2 separate regions of the Homo sapiens genome follow, and region 1 is linked to region 2. Evidence: fine-mapped expression QTL. A gene starts in region 2. The other region holds a variant in brackets. All regions are shown on one strand. Distances are between the middles of the regions. Region 1 overlaps LINC01389 (long intergenic non-protein coding RNA 1389). Region 2 holds the start of CMPK1 (cytidine/uridine monophosphate kinase 1).

Region 1 (2,910 bases), 52 kb after region 2:
CCCCCCGTGCTTCCCATCACTAGTCTATTACCCTTGTTTATTTTCTCAGTGCATATATCACCATGTGAAGTTACTTTTACTTATTGTTGATTTCCCCTCTAGATTTTAAGTGCCAGAAGAGCACTTACCTTGTTTATTCCTGTTTTCCAATACCTAGACCAGTGCCTGCACATAGTAGGCACTCAATATTTGTTGAAAAAATAAACTGAAATGGAAAAATATTTTTGGCAGTAGCTGTAGCTACAAGTTATATCACTGAATTTTGGATCCCAGTAGAGTCTGCTTGTGACCTCTTAGGATTCTATTTTCGTTCCCCCTGAAGATTGGGAGCTGATAATCGTAAAGTACTGGGACCCCATCAGCTTCCCTCTGTTTTCAGTACACAACTCATGAAAAGACTTACAATGTGACTATCTTGGAGAAAAAAAAAGAAAGGGATAAGAAAACAATGTTTGGGCGAAAAATCTCACCCACTCATCCATAGTTCAATCTATGTTGATAGATTTGTTTTACCTATTGTACCTCTGTTTCACTATATGTTAGGACATGGGAAATCTCTGCTTTCTGAAGGCTTTTGACAGTTTTTGTTCACGCCACAGATTTGAAACGACTTAATATAAATTTCTACTTGAAGCCTTATAAGATTATAGTACATCCTAAGCACTTTAGTATCTATTTATTAAATTCAAAAAGAATAAAGTTAGATGCTTTTAGCCTGCCTTCTCCTCTATAGCTGTGTGTTGTGGTTCTTAATCAATGGAGTCTTTGAATGGGAAAGAGATTTCAGAGGTCTTAGTTGGATTTCTCTATTGTCTTAATAGCCTGACACAGAGTAGATAAATAAATGTTTGTATATTGAAAGAAGGAAAGTGTCCTCTTCAAAGCCCTCCAGACAGTTAGGAGCAGAACTAGGCCTAGAACCCAGTTCTCCTTTCTCCCAGCTCTTACTCCTCAACACCAACATGTTTTTTTTTTTTTTTTTTTTTTTTAAAAAGGACAGGGTCTGGCTCTGTTGCCCAACTGCAACCTCTGCCCTTGATCAGGCTCAAACGACCCTCCCACCTCAGCTTTCCGAGTAGCTGGGACCACATGCATGTACCACCACGCCCACCTAATTTTTAAAAAAACTTTATAGAGACATGTTGCCCAGACTGGTCTCGAACTCCTGACCTCAAGTGATCTGCCTGCCTTGGCCTCCCAAAATGTTGGGATTACAGGTGTGAGCCACTGAGCCACCGTGCCCGGCCACTAACATGCATTTACCTCAGTCATTCCTAACAAACACTTGGAAAAGCAAAGTAGTATCCTGTGATACTCCAGAACCACTATGTTACTATGTAGCAGGATTTCATTCAGTATGCTGAGCATTTGTTGAATGTCTTTTTAACCATATTTAAAACAAGAACCAATGCCTCAGGCCCTGCCCCCAGAAATTCTAATTTAATTACTTTTATTTTATTTTATTTTATTTTTGAGACAGAGTCTCACTCTGTCATTCGGGCTGGAGTACAGTGGTGCAGTCTTGGTTCACTGCAACCTCTGCCTCCCAGGTTTAAGTGATTCTGCCTCAGCCTCCCAAGTAGCTGGGACTACAGGCACATGCCACCACACCTGGATAATTTTTGTATTTTTAGTAGAGGTGGGGTTTCACCATGTTGGCCAGGCTGGTCTC[G/A]AACTCCTGACTTCAAGTGATCCCCCTGCCTTTGCCTCCCAAAGTGCTGGGATTGAAGGCATGAACCACCGCGCCTGGCCTCTTATTTATTTATTTATTTATTTAGAGCCAGAGTCTCGCTCTGTTGCCAGGCTGGAGTGCAGTGGCGCGATCTTGGCTCACTGCAACCTCTGCCTCCCGGGTTCGAGCGATTCTCCTGCCTCAGCCTCCCGAGTAGCTGCGACTACAGGCATGTGGCCCCACGCCCAGCTAATTTTTGTATTTTTAGTAGAGACGGGCTTCACCATGTTGGCCAGGATGGTCTCGATCTCTTGACCTCATGATCCGCCTGCCTCGGCCTCCCAAAGTGCTGGGATTATAGGCGTGAGCCACGCTCCCAGCCCTGCATTTCTTTTATGTGTAAAGTGATACTGATATTGATACTTTGAGAACCACCACAGTAAACAAAGTGATCAGAGCAGATAATGAAAACTCACAGCCTTGTATCTTTGTGGGCAAGGGATCAAGTCTTGGTCTTTTTGATGCATTCGCTCATAAGTTCAACTTGGTCTTTTTGATGCATTCACTCATAAGTTCATCGCAGCACTATACACAATAGCAAAGACATGGAATCAAGTCAGGTGCCCTTCAGCGGTGGACTGGATAAAGAAAATGTGGTACATATACACCCTGGAATACTATGCAGCCATAAAGAAAACCCAAAAGTATGCCCTTTGCAGCAACATGGATAAAGCTGGAGGCCATTATCCTAAGCGAATTAATACAGGAACAAAAGTAAATATATGTTCTCACTTAAAAGTGGGAGCTAAGCATTGGGTACGCATGGACACAAAGATGGGAACAATAGACACTGGGGGCTGCAAAAGAGTGAGAGGCAAGGAAAAACTACCTATTGGGAATTATGCTCACTACCTGGGTGACAAGATCAATTGTACCCCATACCTCAGCATCATGCAATATAACCATTAAGAGACCTGCACATGTATTCCCTGAATTTAAAATAAAAGTTGAAAAAAAAAAAGTCTTGGTCTTTTTATCCACAGTGTCTAGCACAGAGTAGGTACTTAGTGTTGATGAATTGACAGTTGGTGACAAACCATAGTGAAAGCTCACAAATTAAACAGCTGCTTAGTCTGCTGCCATTCCTGAGCTCACAGAGTGAGAGGGAAGTACTGCATGCAACAGTATCACAAATGCTCTCCCACTAAGGGAGTTGTCACATGGATGGCAGCTTGGCA
Region 2 (2,910 bases):
AAGTAAAAACAACAACAACAAAAAGAAAGCAAGGAGAGAGAGTAGAGATGGGGAAGAGCCAGAAAATGCTGAGTGAGCTAAGAAAGGACCACCAAAAGAAAAAGGAGAATGGGGGTGGTCAGACAGAGGGCTATACCACTATCTTCCTCTCCTGTTTGCTTTCGTTTACTAACGTCCTGGTCACTCTGCCCTAAACAGCTTAGTTCCTTTCCCATAGTCTTTGTTCACTCCAGCACTATCTGACTTGAACTTGTACCTGTACGACAAATCTAACACCCTGGACTCTTAGTTCTAAAAACAGGACATGCATTCTGCCTCAGTCTTCCATTCCCATGGTCTCACCCTGGACCTTGGCATCATCAGAAACTCAGAAGCTGGGACATTTCAATTCCAAATATCCCACTCAGACCAGCAGCATCCATACTGCCAGAGCACTTGCTCATATACCCCACTGCAATCTTTCTTGGGCCAATGCTCTAAGACATTGGTCCCTTTCCCCACCACCCTCCAACCCCTCCACTACCAGGCTTCATGTGCCATTATTTGCTTTCCTGTATGGTTTTGATTCTACACACAGCATCATGAACATTCTCTTCCAAACACTCTCATCACTTGGCCCCCTCTCTCTGTTGTACTTGCCAGGCAAAATCCCAACCCTCAGTAAATGCAACAAGCTGCCTTCTCTGCCTGTGCCTGAATGGCCAAACATCTTCAATTATTTTGAATCCGTTACCTCAAATATCAAATGAGCTCTTAACGTTGGCCAGAAGGCCTTTTAAAGGCCTGTATGCACCAAGGCTCAGTTCTTGAACGTCTCCTTTTCTTCTCCCTTAAGATTCTTCCCTAATGAAGGGGGCAGGCGAACGGAGTTAAAGGGCTTCCATTGCTGTTAGAATACAGCCCAAATTCCTTTCCATAATCAAAAGTCCTGATCTGCCACCGACCTCACTTTCTCAACTTTTCACCTTCCATTCTCCCCTCATTTGACTCAGCCCTGGTCTCACTGTCACTGGCCTTTTTTCCTTTTTTTTTTTTGAAGCAGTCTCATTGTCACCTAGGCAGGAGTGCAGTGGTGCTATTACGGCTCCTAGGCTCAAGTGAACATCCCAGTAGCTGGGATCACAGGCACGGGTCACGGTGCCCGGCTTTTAAATTTTTGGTCGAGACGGGGTCTCGTCATGTTGTCCAGGCTGGTCTCGAACTCCTGGGCTCAAGCCATCCTCCTGCCTCAGCCTCCCAAAATGCTGGGATTACAGGCGTGAGCCACCGCGCCCAGCCAGGCCTTCCTTCAATTGCTTTAACATGCCAAACCAACTTAGATTTTTTGCACATGCTTTTCTCTGTGGGACACTCTATCCTGGTGTTTGCCTGGTTTCGCTCTTTTCTATCCTTTTGTCTTGGCTTGAATGTCACCTCTTCTGAAGCCTTCTCTGGCGACCCTGGCCATCTTATGTCCTACTTGTTATTTCTTCAAAATCGTACTGCCTTTTGTATGTACTGGTGTTTACTCATTCACACTGGCTACCTCCCCATACCTCACTGGCTGGAATGGAAACTCATTGCGAGCAGAGACAATAGGTTTTGCTCTCCCGCGGATCACGTCCCAGCCTCCAGCTCAGCACCAGACACTTGAGGGCGCAGGATAAAATATCTGCAGTCAGAAAGCACTAATAACCACCCAAGGGTTGGAGGAAAGCTGGCGCGGACCGCACGAGTGTCGCCGAGACGCCGCCGCCGTGCGAAGCTCCTCCCCTTCCGACAGGGCCGCGGACGCCCGGGCAGCCACGGCGGCGGGGCCGCGGCGGGCGCCGGCTCAGCCCGCCCCTTTCTCCCGCCGCCTCCCCGCCCCGCCCCGCGCCGCGCCGGCCGCTGTCAGCTCCCTCAGCGTCCGGCCGAGGCGCGGTGTATGCTGAGCCGCTGCCGCAGCGGGCTGCTCCACGTCCTGGGCCTTAGCTTCCTGCTGCAGACCCGCCGGCCGATTCTCCTCTGCTCTCCACGTCTCATGAAGCCGCTGGTCGTGTTCGTCCTCGGCGGCCCCGGCGCCGGCAAGGGGACCCAGTGCGCCCGCATCGTCGAGGTGAGGCCCGGGCAGCAGGCGGGCTCCTTGGGGCTTGACGGGATGCGGGCCGGCCTGTCCCGCCGCCCCTAGTCCGCGCCCCGCGGAGTCGCCGAGCCGCAGACTACGAGTCCCGGCGGCCACCGCGCCGCCCGCGTGGCAGTGGCCGAGGGCCGCCGGCGCGCGGCGTGCCGGGACTTGTAGTCCGCGCCCGCCCGCCTTGGGGGCCACCGCTTGAGGTCGCTTTGTTCCTGCGCCCCTTCTTTTCTTACATTTTGGGGACCAGATTCGTCTCTAGAGTGGGCTGGGAGAGGGATCCCGGAGGCCAACCTTTGGGGGTCCCCCAGCGCGCAGAGGTTAGCGTGTCGCTGATCGTGTGGCAGGTGAAGGCAGCAGGAGCGCGGATTTGGGTTAGAGGCCGTGTGCGCCCACAGTTGTCTGAAGGAGAGACCTATTTTTCTTCTCCGCGCCTTCCCTCTGGTTCCCTAAACTCCGCACTGTCACCGAACGTGTCTTTACTCTAGAAAGGAGGCCCGTGGGGCGGGGTGTTATTTTAGGCGTGCTGTGGGCTGCCGCTGGCACTCTCGAGCCCCGTCCCCGCAAGCTTTAGGGCGGAGCCAGCCCTGAGGCTCGGCCCGGGTCGGGGATGGGGAAAGCCGGGAGTGCTGTTCTGAGATCAAGCTTCAACCTTTGGCCCTGCTGCCAACTCACGCTCGGCCCTCGGTCACTTCCTGTCTCCCAGCCTCAGTTAGCCCTTGTAATACAGTAAAAAGAGTCTCTGAACCCAGATTTTCTCAGGATATAAAACACCTCCCAAATGTAAAATGCTGTTACTTTTTTTTCTTTTGCTTTGA

Evidence for each region. PIP is the estimated chance that this variant, and not a neighbour inherited with it, causes the effect.
Region 1: its variant is fine-mapped to the expression of CMPK1 in blood mononuclear cells (TOPMed, PIP above 0.99).

Annotation. Positions count from the first base shown.
Region 1 is chr1:47,384,100-47,387,009 of GRCh38, forward strand. It overlaps LINC01389 (long intergenic non-protein coding RNA 1389), which reads right to left. Exons shown (of 5, transcript NR_126355.1): 4 at 2,149-2,257. Among named protein-coding and RNA genes, the nearest start is that of FOXE3, 31 kb to the right of the region's middle. The variant G/A (reference allele first, on the strand shown) is at 1,673.
Region 2 is chr1:47,332,040-47,334,949 of GRCh38, forward strand. It overlaps CMPK1 (cytidine/uridine monophosphate kinase 1), which reads left to right and starts at 1,751. Exons shown (of 6, transcript NM_016308.3): 1 at 1,751-2,077. The coding sequence starts at 1,907. RefSeq lists a silencer at 1,664-2,303 and enhancers at 1,690-2,493, 2,494-2,910, 2,814-2,873.